Linked DNA regions of Homo sapiens: region 2 is linked to region 1. Evidence: fine-mapped expression QTL. Tissue or cell type: lung. Region 1 holds a variant in brackets; the other region holds the start of a gene. All regions are shown on one strand. Distances are between the middles of the regions.

What was found. PIP is the estimated chance that this variant, and not a neighbour inherited with it, causes the effect.
Region 2: CCDC144A starts here. The variant in region 1 is fine-mapped to the expression of CCDC144A in lung (GTEx, PIP above 0.99). The same link has a PIP of 0.9 or more in atrial appendage, esophagus mucosa, esophagus muscle, left ventricle, skeletal muscle and thyroid.

The regions. Positions count from the first base shown.
Region 1 is chr17:16,835,868-16,843,977 of GRCh38, reverse strand. It overlaps the pseudogene KRT17P1. Among named protein-coding and RNA genes, the nearest start is that of FAM106C, 51 kb to the right of the region's middle. RefSeq lists enhancers at 3,190-3,739, 7,890-8,110. The variant G/T (reference allele first, on the strand shown) is at 4,410.
Region 2 is chr17:16,686,226-16,694,335 of GRCh38, reverse strand. CCDC144A (coiled-coil domain containing 144A) reads right to left here and starts at 4,095. Exons shown (of 17, transcript NM_001382000.1): 1 at 3,592-4,095; 2 at 1,287-1,357. The coding sequence starts at 3,935. It also overlaps the pseudogene RNU6-405P. RefSeq lists enhancers at 4,202-5,105, 6,893-7,393.

The DNA.
Region 1 (8,110 bases):
GTCCCAAGGCCCCGGGGCTGGAATTCGTTTCCACTCGACCCTCTCATCAGCCCTTCCAACCCCTTAGAGTCCTGGCAAAATGAAGGCAGGTGAGCAGCCAGGACCTGGACCTGCAATTCCAAGCAGCCTGGGCTGAAGTCCCTGATTCCCATGGCAGGTTTGAGACAGAGCAGGCCCTGTGCCTGAGTGTGGAGGCCGACATCAATGGCCCGTGCAGGGTGCTGGATGAGCTGACCCTGGCCAGAGCCGACCTGGAGATGCACATTGAGAACCTCAAGGAGGAGCTGGCCTACCTGAAGAAGAACCACGAGGTGAGGTGGCTGGGGCAGAAGGTCAAAGATGCTGAGGAGTGGGTGGCAGAGCCCTGGGGCTGGGCCATGGCTGAGGCCGTGGGAGAGAGCAGAGCAGGCGCACTGGGATTAGTCACCTTAGAGGGCTTCCCTGTCTGCGGAGCCCTGATCCTTGGGGTCCAGCGTGCAGGGCAGACTCCTCTTTGTACCACACTGCTTCTCTGTACCCAAGGAACCTCCCAGGGGCCCGCAGAGGCTCCCTCTACCTGCCCTGGCCTCCCTCACGAGGGCAGGGGATAAGTAAGGAAGTCTCCTTCTTGTCCCATTTCAAACTCTCAAAGCTGAACATCTACACAGAAGCTTGGAAATTAGAGGGGAAATTTTTGGGGCATAGGCCTAATAATTAGATTTTATTTTGGAGAGCCGTTGGTCTAATGGGGGAGATAGAGTCTGATGGTGGAGGCAATACTGAGCAGATGAATAAAAATCATTTAGAGGGTCAGATAGAGCAGAGGAAGAACAAAGGAGGGGTCCTTGTGGGGAGTGGGGTCACCTCGTGGGGGAAGGCTTGGGAGTGAGAGATCAGGATGGGTCCAGATGCGCACATCCACATCCCCTTTTTCCATAGGAGATGAACGCCCCGCGAGGCCAGGTGGGCGGTGAGATCAATGTGGAGATGGGCGCTGCCCCAGGTGTGGACCTGAGCCGCATCCTGAATGAGATGCGTGAGCAGTATGAGAAGATGGCAGAGAAGAACCGCAAGGATGCCGAGGATTGGTTCTTCAGCAAGGTGGGGGCTGCTGCAGGCCAGAGGTCTCTCTTCGGGGCTGGGGCTCAGGGGCCTTAGCACTGACAGTAAGCCCACGGCCAGGTGTCTTGGAGATGCTCCCTCCTCAGAAAGCTGCATGGACCACAGGGTCACCCACTGCATCAAGAGACCTGGAGCTGAGCTCAAGCTGGGATCTGGGGGGTGGGTGGGGAGGTAGGGAGCCCCCACAGAATAAAGGCAGAGGGTAAAGATCTTGGGAGTCCCCACCTCTCTCTCAAGAAGTCAGAAACTAGCACCAAGAGCCAGGCTAATGTTCTGGCTGGTTCTCAAGTTTCCGGTCTGTGCCTCCCACACGCAGGGATTAACCATAAAAAGTTAACATTTCAAATGGCATGTTTCTGGGCTTTGGGACGTGGGAAGCTGGTGAGAACGCATCACTCTGTCCACAGTTAGATTTGGGAGGAGGCCTGACTGAGGAGAGGGATCCAGGCTCACACAACCCTGTCCTGTGTTCTGTCTGCAGACAGAGGAGCTGAACCGCGAGGTGGCTACCAACAGTGAGCTGGTCCAGAGCGGCAAGAGCGAGATTTCGGAGCTCCGGTGCACCATGCAGGCCTTGGAGATCGAGCTGCAGTCCCAGCTCAGCATGGTAGGAACAGTCCTGTGCATGGGGATGGGCCCAGAAGAGGACACTGACAACCCTCACTGACCCCTGGTCTTCCTGCCCTCCTGCAGAAAGCATCCCTGGAGGGCAACCTGGCGGAGACAGAGAACCGCTACTGCATGCAGCTGTCCCAGATCCAGGGGCTGATCGGCAGTGTGGAGGAGCGGCTGGCCCAGCTTCTCTGCGAGATGGAGCAGCAGAACCAGGAGTACAAGATCCTCCTGGACATGAAGATGCGGCTGGAGCTGGAGATCACCACCTACCACCGCCTGCTGGAGGGCGAGGATGCCCAGTGAGTGGGGGAGCCTGGGGTCAGGGCTGGGGGCCTCTTGGCGGGGGGGGGCTCTCAGACTCACATCTAATTTCCTCTCTGTTTTTTTTTTTCTTTCAGCCTGACTCAGTACAAGAAAGAACATAAGCATCTTGGTGGCTGAGGCCTTGGGGATTGGGTGCAAGGGACAGGCAGCCCACCTGCACGTTGCTGGGGCTGAGTCCCCAGGAGTTCTAGGAGTTGATGGCTGTCCCTCAGCAGGGGTGGGAGAAGTGACCCATTAGCACTGAGGATTGATACTCAGGAAAAGATCAAATGAGAGAGATGCTGTCTGCTCTGATGGGGTGGGCCAGGGAACTGGTCCTTACCTTGGAGATCCTAGTCTGATGGAGGAGACATGTCCCAGCTCTGGAGATTGTCATCTGATGGGAAGATAGGAACATGGTCTCATGATCTTTGCTCTTGACAGCTTTCGGATGAGCGAAAGCAGTCCTGTCTCTGGGGTCTCTAGCCTGATGGGAAATAGGGACCTGGTCCTTGTCCTCCAAATTCCAGTCTGATGGAGAAGATATGATTCTAGCCCCAGGGTTCCTAGTCTAATGGAGGAGATAGGGGCCTGGTTTTTGTCTTGGCGATCCCAGTCTGATGGGGGAGATGGGAGCAAATCTATGTCCTGGAGACTGCAGAGAAATGGAGATGGATTTCATGGAGTCTACATGGCTCCTCCCTGGCAGGACACACTGGGTCAGAATCAAATAACCCATCTGCGGAGGCAAGACTCACACAGGGCCACCGGCAGAGGGATGGGATGGAAGGGAGGCGGTGGCAGGGACAGGAGGGATGTGTGTGCAGTGTGATGTTGAGGTGCCAGTGGAGGCACTCACAGCACCTGGGGGAGGACGAGGGAGAGAGCCGGCTCCTGTCCATGAGGGCTAGGGGGCAAGCGAGGGCCTCCTGGCCCCTACCCACTTTAAATTGCCTGCTTCTCCTGCAGCGGTGACCACCTGTCAGGTGCCTACCATTGTGGAAGAGGTCCAGGATGGTAAGGTCATCTCCTCCCGCGAGCAGGTCCGCCAGACCACCCGCTGAGCACTCAGCTTTCCTGGCCGGCCCCCCAGGAGGCAGGGAGGCAGCGGTCCCATCTGCCCCGCGGTCTCCGGCCTCTCCACCCTCAGCCCCCTGCTTCAGTCCCTTCCCCATGCTTCCCTGCGTGATGACAATAAAGCTCGTTGACTCAGCTATGAAATGTGTCCTTGTTCTGGCCGCTGAAGTGGGCACTGGGGACAAAAGGGTGAAATGGGAAGGAGTGAGGGTGAGGGGAGATGGTGCGTGGAGACCCCGTTGTTGACTGGCAGGTCAGAGGTCAGCTTAGACCAGCATAAAGAGTAAGTCTGGGGAGAGTTTGGAGGGGGGTGCTCGCATCTCCCAAGGGCTGGAGATTTTCAGGGGGTGGTCCAGGCTGCGCTAGACCCGGGGTGGAGGCGGTGTATCAGGTGTGGTCCTAGGTCGCCACTGCTTGCCCCGTGAGTAACTCTGTGACCTCGGGAAGTTAGGCAGTCACTTCCCCTGACTGAGCCTTGCTTTTCCATCCGTAAATGGATGGGAAGATCTCAGGTGTGGGAGCCCGAATCCTCAGAGATGACTCACTCAATCAGTTGCTCCTTCCTGTCCTGTGGGCTGTGCCCTCCCCCTAGATGGGGCAGGAGGTGGGCAAGGGCTGGGATAAGCACAAAGGGAGGGTGGGTGGGGGAGGCAGGCTGGGTGATTGGGGCCCCGACTCCTGTGTGAGTCTCAGGAAATCCCCAAGAGGGGCTCCCATTGCCTCTGCCCTGGGAATGTGAGCGGGAGGGTGGTGTTTTCAGGGAAGGCTGCGGACCCCAGGCAGGTATGGGAGAAAGGGTGGGGCCTCTCTCAAGGATGTTTCCTCACATGGTCAGCTGTTGCTCAGGATGCGGACAGGGCAGAGTGGGGGGCACTGCAGATGGGGTGGCTGTGCCCAGGGAGCAGTGCCACTCTCCCTGGCGGTCTGGATCCTCTTTGGTTCCCCACTAGGGACAGGGGTGGTGTGAGGGAGGGTAGAAACTGCCTCCTAGGAAAATGAGAAGGAACAGTCCTGCTCCAGCCACTCCCGGCACCCTCTATGAGCTGACCAACCCCAGCTCTTGCTGGTGGCAGCAAACGTGGCTGTGGGGAGCAGTCTGTGGGAGGTGAGCCTGACACCTGGAAATCTTCCTTGTAGTAAATCTGGAAACTGCCAGGTGGGTTGGCCTGCTTTCCTGGTTTTCTTCAAGCAGGGGGTTAGTGGGAGGAGGGTGCCGCCACGTCATCACTGCTGCACCTGTGGTGTCTCTGCTGCTGCGGAATCAGACCAAGGCCCCCAAACACCCTCTCTCTCCTGGTGCCTGGAGGCTGGGG[G/T]TGGGGCCCAGGTCCGAGGAGAATGGGAGTGACCAGAGCCCTCTGAGCCTGGGTTGGTGGGGGTTTGGGACTGGCAGAGGCCAGGGATGGGGGTGGGTACTGACCACTGGGGTATGGGTGACTTTGGGCTGGTCACAAGCCCTCCCTGGACCTTGGAGCTATGACATCCCGGGAGAGTGTTTCTCTCTGCAGGGTAGATGGCTGCCTGGAGTCGGGGACTTGCACCTGCAGCGGCATCTGCACGACTCAAAGCAAGGGCAAGCTCTGCTCCGTTGGAGGCTGACGTCTCCCTGCTCTCTGGCAGCAAATGTGGGGCCATGGAGGGCAGGAGGGAGGCACTGTTTGCACCAGGCCCCCACCATACACCCCGCCACAACCAGAAGAACAGCCCTGGGCTGCAGATGGCTCATTCTGGAGGGTGACTTCATTTGTCTGAATAGTCCCCGGAAGCAGGGAGGGTCTAGGGGAAGGCGCCTTGTTGTGTGGATGGGGACACTGAGGCTCCAAGGAGCAGTGACTCAGCCCTTGTCCCACAGCCTGAGGGGTCAGTAGTGGAGACGGGCATGGGAGGGGAGTGGGCCCCGCTTCCGTGCTGGGAAGAGGAGCCAAGCCCCAGCTCCTCCCCCACCTCAGGCTCCAGGCAGGGCTATCTCTCCCTCCTGTAGAGCCTGGGGTCCACAATTACTGATGGCGTGAGTGAGGAGGGGTCAGAGTGTGGGAAGGACCAGAGACAGCCCCAGACTGTGCCCCTCTGCTGGGGAAGAAGCCCTTCTCCACAAAGTGAGTGGGTGGGAGGCTCAGGAGGCCAGAATGGGGGAGCCCCCCGGTGTGCCCAGAGAGCTGAGCCAGTAGAGGCAGTGGTTGCCAGGGGCTGGTGGGGAGACTTGAGTGACTTTGTCCAAGGACCCCAAGTGGGCCCAGGATGCTGGGGACATGTGCCTGGGCTGGATTGGGGACCCAGCTATGGGACTCAAGGAGGGACTCACAGTTCGTCCACACACTCCCTGCCCACTGCACAGAATGTCCTCAAGGCAGAAGCTGCGGATCTGTGGTTGCCCTGTAGAGCTGCCACACCTGGTCTCGTGTGATGGACACACATATAGGACTCTCAGGCCAGGCCCATGCCAGTGGTAGCTGCCTCCGGACCCCCCTTGCAGGGGTTGACCTGGCAGCATGTCTTCTACGGAGACGGATGTGGTGGGGGACACTCATCCATGGCATGACATCGCTCTGCGTCTGGTTTGCACTGAGTCCAGGGAAAGGAGGAGACACCGGTCCTGACCCCAAGAGACAGTGCCTGCCCCAAGGGGACCTGAGGGACTGACAACAGTCCCTCAGCCCTTATGCAGTGTGGGTCTATTGCGGCAACCAAGGTTTTGGGGAGATGAGGGGAACAGAGGGAGCAGAGCCAGGCAGGTCTCCCCACATGCACAGAGCCGAGGGGATAACTGAGCTTAACAGAGACCCGTCCTCACCCTGAGCTGTAGTGACCATTTGAAGAAACATCCCTGAGAGAGGCCCACTCTTTCTCCCACAACCCCCTGGGGTCTGCAGCCTTCCCTGGAGGCACCAGCTTCCCGCTCACACTCCTGGGGTGGGGGCAATGGGAGCCCCTCTTGGGGGTTTCCTGAGACTCATACAGGAGTCCGGGCCCCTTGTTTGTGCAGAACAGGCACCCCAAGTGGGTCCAGGCTGCTGAGGACATGTGCCTGGGCTGGACTGGGGACCCAGCTATGGGACTCATGGAAGGACTCACAGTTCGTCCACAGCCACCCTGCCCACTGCACAGAATGTTTCACCCCGTCATCAAGGCAGAAGCTGCAGATCTGTGGTTGGATTGTGAAGGGCTATGACAGCCCCACCTTCAGAAGGGGGGCGTCAAACTTGCAGGAGGGGAGAGGACCCCCGATGGTGGGCCTGGCACTCACAGATTTCCCCAGATCCCTGGAGCCATCACAGGGGCAGAGCCTGGGCCTGGACATTCGTTCTCCCCCAGGAACCCTGCTCCCTCTGTTTCTCTGCAGGGCCCCAGCACCCCATCGTGGCCTGACTTTAGTGTATTAGGATTGTCTTTACCACCTTCTCCCCCAGAAGACTATGTCTCCAGGGCTTCTCTGTCTTGTTCTTTGAGTCTGAGTGCCCAGCACAGTGCCAGGCACACAGTAGGTGCTTTATAAACACCTGCTCATAAACATAACGCTAGCCACCAGCCTTTGCCAGGTGCTTTATTTATTTGGCCTCAAATCCCCTAATATGCCTGTGACACAGGGCTGTTATTCCCATTTCCCAGACAAGGAAACTGAGGCTCAGAGAGGCTGAATATCCTGCCCAAGGTTTCGCCCCTGCTTGCCCCGATTCCAGGCTGCTCTGTCCTGGCTCAGTGGGGCTCTACTTTTCCTTCCTCCTGCCCTGAAGCCTGTGGCTCTGGCTTGTCCACCCAGGGCTGGGGGCCCTGCAGCAGCCCCCTCTCTCCCCTCAGCTTCTCTGCCCCACTCCTCAGCCCCCTAAGCTGCCTCCTGCCTTCCCAGTCTGAGTTGGCTGGGGAGCTTGTAAAACAGCCCCACCAGCAGGCTTGTCCTGAGTGGTGCTGATGCAGGAGTTGGAGCAGGGCTGCGAATCTTCTTGGGGACTCTGATGATCTGTCTGGTTGGAGAATCACTGCAAGCCAAGGCATGGCATTGGCCAATGGTGATTCCCGGCCTCCTCAGGTATGCTATGATCTCCTGCCTCATGCTTGACATGGGCAGGACGAAGGAGGGAGGAAGGAGGCAGGGTGCGGGGAGGAATCCTCTGCCTGGAGGATGCCCATTGGGCTTCTCTATGCTCACCAGGCTTAGTGGTCCTGGCTCTTGGCCACCTTGGGGCAGGTGTGCATCACTGATGCAGAGGAAACGCCTCCTCCTCCTCTGTCAACTCAGATCCTCTGAGGCCCTGCTGGTGCCTCCCTCTGCTGGGACCCTTTCAGGGATCAAGGCCAGGAGGGCAGCCCCCTCCTCTACTGCTGAGGCTCAGCGGGGTAATGCTTACCCCAGCTGCCTCCTGTGGTGTGGGCGTGGCAGGCAAGCCCAGTACCCTAGGGTTTCTAGCCAGGTTCTGCATTTTCCAGCGTTAGTTTTCCCTCCAGGGTCAAATGATAAGTTCTTCTAAGGTCAGAGACTATGTCATCATTTCCCTCTTCACCCCCAGCCCCCGAGAGCTGTGCACACGGCAGGTGCGTGATCTATGGAGTTGGCTGAGCAGTTTGGCGCGTTGGTCAGCAACTTCCTGCAGCTTCTCAGCCCACGCAGATCCTCAGGTCTGCAGTGCTGGGCTTGTGTATAATCCCACCCTGACACCTCCTGGAATGGGGAACTTGGCGGGGGGCAGTGAGCCAATGAGAAAGGGGTGTGTGTGCACGCACACACGGTGGGGGCAGAGAGTGAAGAGTTCTCGGAGACTCCACTGTGAGAGTCGGTGTGAATCCTGGCTTGGGAGTTGGAGCTGGCTCCGGTCTGTGCTCTCTCACTTTTGTGCTGCTTAACCTGGATAAGGCTTTCGCCCTCTCCGGTTGGGGTATTGATAGGCTTTGGTGACCTTGAAGACCATTTTCAGTTCTGAGGGTGATGGGTCTGTGGTTGGACTGGAACTCCAGGCCCACCCTGACACCTGAACGCTGAGGTTTTTGTCCAAGATTCCGGGGTCCCCTTTGTCCCTCTTTGGGG
Region 2 (8,110 bases), 150 kb after region 1:
TTGCTGGGACTACAGGTGTGGGCAGCACACCTGGCCATTTCACAGTTCTTATTGCCATTTGTTTATGGTGCCAGAAAGGTATTGCCGAGTTTCCAGTTTTGAAACTAATTTCTTTTTTTTAGTGACACAAATCACTATGTAATATAGTTAGCCTTTGAACAACACGGATTTGAACTGCAGGGGTCTACTTATGAGCAGATTTTCTCCCACCTCTACCACCTGAGACAGCGAAGACCAATCTTCCTCTTCCTCCTTCTCCTTAGCCTGCTCAACTTGAAGACTATGATGAAGAGTTATATAATGATCCACTTGCATTTAATGAACAGTAAGCGTATTTTTTCTGCCTTATGATTTTCTTAACAGTTTATTTCCCTAGCTTCCTTTATTGTAAGAATACAGCATATTAATACATATACCATACCAAACATATCTTAATTGACTGTTTATGTTATCAATAAGGCTGCTGGTCAACAGTTAGCTATTAGTAGTTACGTTCTTGGGGGAGTCAAAAGTTATACACAGATGTTTGACTGCAGAGGGAATCAAGCATCCCTAAATTCCACATTGTTAAGGGTCAATTGTGATTGATATTCATTTACTAAACATAAGTCATTTATTTTAAAAATTAAATAGAAGTTCCAATTTCATAACAAGTCTAATTCATTATAAGGTGACTATAAAGAAAACATACAACTTACTAACTCAAAAATATCTTTTTCTTGGCCGGGCGCGGTGGCTCACGCCTGTAATCCCAGCACTTTGGGAGGCCGAGGCGGATGGATCATGAGGTCAGGAGATCGAGACCATCCTGGCTAACACGGTGAAACCCCATCTCTACTAAAAATACAAAAAATTAGCCGGGCGGGGTGGCGGGCGCCTGTAGTCCCAGCTACTCCGCAGGCTGAGGCAAGAGAATGGCGTGAACCAGGGGGTGGAGCCTGCAGTGAGCCGAGATCGCACCACTGCACTCCAGCCTGGGCGACAGCGAGACTCCGTCTCAAAAAAAAAACAAAAAAAAACACTTTTTCTTATTTATACAAAAATATCACATAGGATTTTAGGGACCATAATTAATTTTTTTTCAGACCAGATTGTTTGAAAAAATAAATGACCTACAATTAACTTTTTAAATAATTGTGACATCTAACCTACCAAGAAATCTAACCTATCAAGAAAGAAATAAAGATTTTTTAAAACTGCTCTTTCATGATCAAAACTTCCTTACTCTTACTTCTTTTTTACCTATGGTAGGACCACCAAAAATAATTCACTATCAGAAGTCTTACCTGGATTGTTATTTTGAGGAAGACTTTCAGGTGTCTGTTTTTCCTTATATTCAGGAACTAGTTGCTGAATGCTATGGATAAAAATGTAATAAATGAAATTACTATTTTAAAACAAATGAAAAATACCAAATATATTAAATTTTTAGAGTATTTCAAACAATATCAGAGTTAATATCAGAACTTTAATTATCCCATATACTTCAATTTGTGAGTTCTACCAACTTCTCTTTAAGCTTCTGAAGAAGAAAAAAAGATGAAGTACTCATGAATTGAAGGGAGTATAGCTCAGTAAATTAACTCACATTAGCTTGGCATAATGGAAAGCGTCCTAGCTCTATTACCAGCAGCTATTTATTCTCTGACAAGTTGCTTCTCTTAGGCTCAATGTATTCTTCTAAAAAGCAAGGATTTTACTGCCTTATTTCACTAGGTTGTTAAAGATTTAACAAGAAAACGTTTTGTAAATGCTCAGAGAAACAGTGAAGCAATGAAATAATTTGTTCTTGAGCTTTATTGAGGAAATGGTTTTGGAATCACAAATAAAACCCAATGTGTATTTTTCCAGAGGTTCTAATATTCAAATGTTGCAGTTTTCCAAAACTGTTATTAAGTTCTAGTTTTATTAGTTCTATTCTTTGTGGCTTATAATTTGGGGCATCACAGCTAGTTCATAGTTTGTAACTAAATTTACTTATAAATATATTATTTCATCAAACTAGATAACAACACTGTCCACTATTACTGAGCTCATCAATCACGCCAAGGGGAGAAAGCTAATAGATGTCAAGACCTAGCTTGGACTACTGTTCCATACAGACTCAAACTCTGAATCGGCAGATCTTTGTTAGAAGGATGCTCAATCCCCATGTTCATCTCCAACTGACATGGAAAACAAAATGCTACTTTTCTTTTTCAGTTCCATGAAAGACATGCAAGTTGACATTCTCTCATTTCTGAGATACATACTGACAATATATTTGCACACAACATCCCACGTGTTACTCAGCTCCATTGATCACCTTACTGCATATTTTTGTAGTGAAAAATCACAATTTTAATATTAGGTGATACCCAGTTTGCTTTGACTCACACTGTCTTTGGAACTAGTCAGCAAATAGTCAAATGAACTTCTAGTGACTGCGCAAAATATGGACCACTTCAAAAATCTGTGCATCATCCTTATGCAGGCAGGGGCCATGCTAATTTCTCTCCATTTTGTTCCAATTTCAGTATATGTTTGCTGCTGAAGCAAGTTTTGTTTGTTTGTTTGTTTGTTTGTTTGTTTTAGACTGAGTCTCGCTCTGTCACCCAGGCTGGAGTGCAGTGGCGCGATCTCGGCTCACTGCAAGCTCCGCCTCCTGGGTTCATGCCATTCTCCAGCCTTAGCCTCCTGAGTAGCTGGGACTACAGGCGCCCACCACCACGCCCGGCTATTTTTTTTTTGTATTTTTTAGTAGTGACGGGGTTTCACCGTGTTAGCCAGGATGCTCTCAATCACCTGACCTCGTGATCCGCCCACCTTAGCCTCCCAAATTGCTGGGATTACAGGCATGAGCCACTGCACCCTGCCAAAGCTCTCATTTTATACATGGATATTCATGAGTCATGGATGAGACTTAGCTCTGTTAAATCCAACTAACATACTTGAGACTCAGAATTCTGGTGATGGCTTCCTGCCACAAATCTGGGAAAGGATAATATGGGACATTCCACGATCTAAGAAAAGGGTCCTCAGCATACAGATCTGGTAGCAATGAAAAAAGGAAACTCCTCTCTTTCTGCAACATTATTTGAACTGAACCCCGAGGGCCTAAAGGATAATTTATCATGAAGGTCTTAGCTAAGTCTAGGCTGAGACAAAAGCATAACAGGCGGGGTTTCACCATGTTGGTCAGCCTGGTCTCGAACTTCTGACCTCGTGATCTGCCCTCCTCGGCCTCCCAAAGTGCTGGGATTACAGGCATGAGCCACCGAGCTCGGCCAACATGAAGTTCTTAAGGATGGAAGGAACCTGAGCGACAGTAGAATATGTCTGCTGTATAATAGGTATTCAGCTTATGTTTGATGAATAAATTGAGAAAATGGATAAACACAGTTGGGAAGTGCAATATTTTTAAAGAAAACTCCTGTAAAGTAGACCAACACTTTTGCAATAGTAATAATCCTTTATATTTGATCCCGTCTCACTAAGAGGCCTGGGCCCCTGACCCCTCTGACGTTTCCCCATCCCGGGTGCCGTGGGGCCTGCGGGCACCAGAAAGCCAGTGTCCCCGACAGGACGGCGCATCCTTCGCCTGGCCATTACCTCTTCTTCCTATCCCTCTTGTCCACGCCAGTGTCTCCAGGAGCTAAGATGTGCTCCACCCCAGGGACGTCGCCCGACCGGGCAGCTCTGTGGAGCTCGCCAAGATCTTCCAGGCGGACGTCGTGCTGGGGCTGGTCTAAGGCGCCCTCACCGTGCTTGCTCTCGCTGCCGACGCTGTTTTTCCACCAGCTGTAGGGGAAGCCCGAGGACCACTGGTCCCCCGGGTAGCCCAAGTACCACTGGTCCCCCTGGCTCCCGACGCTAGGGGTCTTCCTCGTGGCGTAGACTGCCGGCTTCGGAGACCCCTCAGCCCCTCCCCGCTTTTCTCCACCCCAGGAGGCCATCAGTAGCGAGCTACTGCCTCGGCCACAACCTCCCAGCAGGATAGCCCGCGGTTTCCAATCTGCGAAAGGAGGACCGCCAAGCCAGAAATGCCAAGCCAAGCGATCACTGCCACGCCAAGCCAAGCGACCACCGCCAAGCCAACAGCCACCGCAAAGCCTCGTGGGTAAGGCCAAGCCAATCCGTTACAGACCAGTGCGCCTGCCCACCTGTGACATCACGGAACCTGTGACTTCACTGCATCTGCAGCTCCAGCCTCCCAGAAAAAGACTCCTTGGCCTGCAGGTGGCGCTGCAGCTCCAGCCTCCCAGAAAAAGACTCCTTGGCCTGCAGGTGGCGCTGCAGCTCCAGCCTCCCAGAAAAAGACTCCTTGGCCTGCAGGTGGCGCTGCAGCTCCAGCGCCAACCTGGGCTGGCTGGTCCTCCCTCGGAGGTTTCGGGGTGGCGGTGCCCAGCCTGCCTGTCATGAGTGCCGCTTCACAGCGCCGCCGGCGCACCTGCTCCTAGGCTTGCTCGGTTCAGGGGTACGGGTCAGTTCCGCCCCCGGCTTGGCCACTGCAGCAAAGTTGCCCTAGGGTCCGCGCTGCCAGGACGCAAGCGGAGTCAGATGGCTGGGTCAGAGCGGCCTGTCAGCCCGGCTGGAAGGGCCTGCCCGACGCCGCTGCCCGCCCAGCTCCTACTCGGCCTGCGCCTGGAGCCAGGGACCAGCTCTGGGCATTCTGCTGCCTTAGGATGGGGCCAAGCAGCCGCTCCCCGCCGTGTGCCGCAGCCGCTGCGCGCATCTGCCCAGGGTCCGTGCAGCTGGCGACCCGGGCGGGTCGGGGAACGCCTGGTGCCACCAGGATTGCTCGCCTCTAGTCCGTCCTGACCCTTCAGCCCGCGAGCACCAGTGAGATTGAAGAAAAGTGACGGCCAGGCGCGGTGGCTCACACCTGTAATCCCAGCACTTTGGGAGGTTGAGGCGGGCAGATCACTTGAGGTCAGGAGTTTGAGGCCAGCCTGGCCAACATGGTGAAACCCTCTCTACTAAAAATACAAAAATTAGTTGGGCGTGGTGGCGCGTGCCTGTAGTCCCAGCTACTCCAGAGGCTGAGACAGGAGAATCTCTTGAACCCGGGAGGTGAACGTTGCAGTGAGCTGATATCGTGCCACCAAACTCCAGCCTGGGCGACAGAGCAAGACTCCGTCTCAAAAAAAGAAAGAAAAGAAGGAAGGAGAGAACGAAGCAAAGAGAAGGAAAGAAGGAAGGAAGAAAGGAAGAAAGAAAGGAAGGAAGGGTGACAAAGGAGAATCTAGAGAGCACTCAAATACTAATTCTTGAGGACAATTAAGACAGATAGCATTATGAAAAACAGATTTTGTCACTGAAGCCTCAGGGCTTCAGCCTAGATCCTGCGCTGCTCACCCACAGAAAGCCAATCACTGAGATGAGTATTGCAAAGGAAGAAGGCTTTAATCAGATGCTGCAGCCGAGGAGATGGGAGCTCAGTCTCAAATCCCTCTCTCTGACCAACTAAAATTAGGGATTTTTAGTATAGCAAAGAAGAAATGTAACTATGTATAAGAAAACATGAACTAGAAAGGCGTAAGGAAGCAATCATTTACAAAATATCTGTGGCCGGGCGCAGTGGCTCCCACCTGTAATCCCAACACTTTGGGAGGCAGAGGCAGGTAGATCATGAGGTCAAGAGATCAAGACCATCCTGGCTAACATGGTGACCCCTTGTTCTCTACTAAAAATACAAAAATTAGTTGGGCGTGCTGGCACGTGCCTGTAGTCCCAGCTACTCGGGAGGCTGAGACAAAAGAATCGCTTGAACCCAGGAGGTGGAGGTTGCAGTGAGTCAAGATCATGCCACTGTACTCCAGCCTGGCGACAGGGCTAGACTCCATCTCAAAAAAAAAAAAAAAAAAAAAAACAGAAAAAGAAAAAAAGTATCACCCTGCCTCCTCAATCTTGGCATAATTCCCCCTATGAGTGGTTTCTGGGGTCTCAGTTGGCATTTAGTCACACGTATGACATTGCACATATCGTGTGCACATCTGCACAGCTCAGCAGTGTCCTGGGTAGGCCTTGAAGGGTGATCTTCACGTAAGCCTGTGGCCTGAGCAAGAAAGCTGCACACGGGCAGCGGAGGAACCAGCAGGAGCCCAGTCCTCTGTGGAAAATTCCAGCACCACCCGCAAGAGCAGCTGCAGTGGAGACTGTGACCTGACAAGGATATATGCATGAAGATGCTGGTCTGAAAACAGACTCAGTTTAAGGGTGGCACTTTGAAAAAATATTGATACATGTCAGTGAGAAAAAAATAATTAGAAACAAAATATATTTATTAGAAATATTACAGTCATTTATCATACACTTTCCTATGAATAGTTAAATACATCTAATTAGCATGTCATATCCAAAAGTGCTGGGTACAATCTAGTGTGCTCTTTATAGACACAAGGCCACAGATGTATCAACTACACTCAACTAATGTAGTTAAAGTTAGTGTGCTAAAAAAAAAATTAGTGTGCTACTCAGGATGCTACAGATTTAGCAAAACTCTAACCTGGATCAGAGGAATGAAATGCCCCGTGAATTGAGGCAACTGTAGATATTCAAAATGCTTCTAAAAAGGCTGTGAGGTTATGTCCTTTACTGCATGTCATTGGTAGGGCATCTCAAAATGGCACTCGAGCTTTGGAAGAATGAGAACTATTGCTGGATTTGACAGTGGGTCTGCATCTATGGGCCCGAGTCCTCCATCTCCACAAGCCGCCCCTCAGTGGGGAAGAGGAGGGGGAGACTAAGGGAGTCTCCGTAATGTTCGTGGGCAGCAGGGAAGAGAACATGGCAGAGATTCCTCACCGCTGGAGGGCTTGTCCCCTGGGTATGTGTGTTTTTGTTTAATACCCACTGGCATCTACTTGGGTTGGTCTCTACAAAAGCTGTAAAAAAACAAATGAATGAAAAAGGAAAACAAAAGACTAATATTGTTTTTGAAATGAAAGGGGCTAGGACAAGAGAAATTCCTGAGAATGTTATCCCTGCGGGGGGCGGCGGGGGAGGGGGATGGGCTACCATCAGACAAGGAAAATTCAATCCCTGTTCAGTGCAGAGAACAGCGACTTCTCACCTTGAAAAACTCCCCCACTCTACTGAGGCTTGCATTTTGCAGCTGTCTTTCATGTAAAAATTATACATAAAAAAAGGATCTTCAGAACAACCAAAGAATTTTAAATGACTACATACTGACTGAGGGAAGATGGAAAGAAACCTGGCTGTTGTGGCCTCTGAAAGCCTCAGGACAGAAACCGGGAATGGCACACTCTGCTGAGTATAGAAAATGTAAGATGCTGACCTTGTTTTCCCAGTTTACCAACTTTCCACCTTCACCTGGTGCTCTGAGTTCTGTTAAAAACAGACCTAAAAACCCTACCCCTTGGCCTAGCTGGGGTGAGGACTGCCTCCCCCAGGTCCTGCACCTCCACACGCCAGCGGATGGCCTGGGGGAGCCTACTAGCTGCTGTGCTAGAAGGCCTATTCCTGCATCCCTGAGGCCATCAGTCACAGTTCCAGGACCCCAGCAGAACCTTCCCTTCCCTGAAACACCGCCTGTATTTCTTTTCTTTGTGTGTGTGTGTGTGTGTGTGTGTGTGTGTGTGTGTGTTTGTGTGTGTGACAGAGGCAGAGGTTGCAGTGAGCCAAGATTATACCACTCCAGCCTGGGCGACGGAGTGAGATGCTCTCTCAAAAAAAAAACAATTTTTTTTTGTGGAGTCAGAGGTCTTGCCATGTTGCCCAGGCTGGTCCCGAACTCCTGGGCTCAAGCAATCCTCCCATCTCAGCCTCCCAAAGTGCTGGGATTACAGGCATAAGCCACCATACCTGACCACCATGTGTACTTCTAGGGACAGGATATAGCATTCCTCTTCTATATGCACACCCACTGGCAACAAAAAAAATGGTAGTCGGGGAAACTCCTTGAGTTATAAAAATAAATTGCACATGGCCTTTCATGTTTCTTTCCTTCTTTTTAACCTAAAGAGAGCAGGATACAGACAAAAATGGAGAGTTTGGCCACAGTCACTGGCAACTTGGGCTCCCATTGGAGAGGGGCTGGTATGGTGCCAGCATGGAGGGAGGGAAATTGCAACACCATTGCCCAGAGCTGGTTCTAGATGGTTTGCAC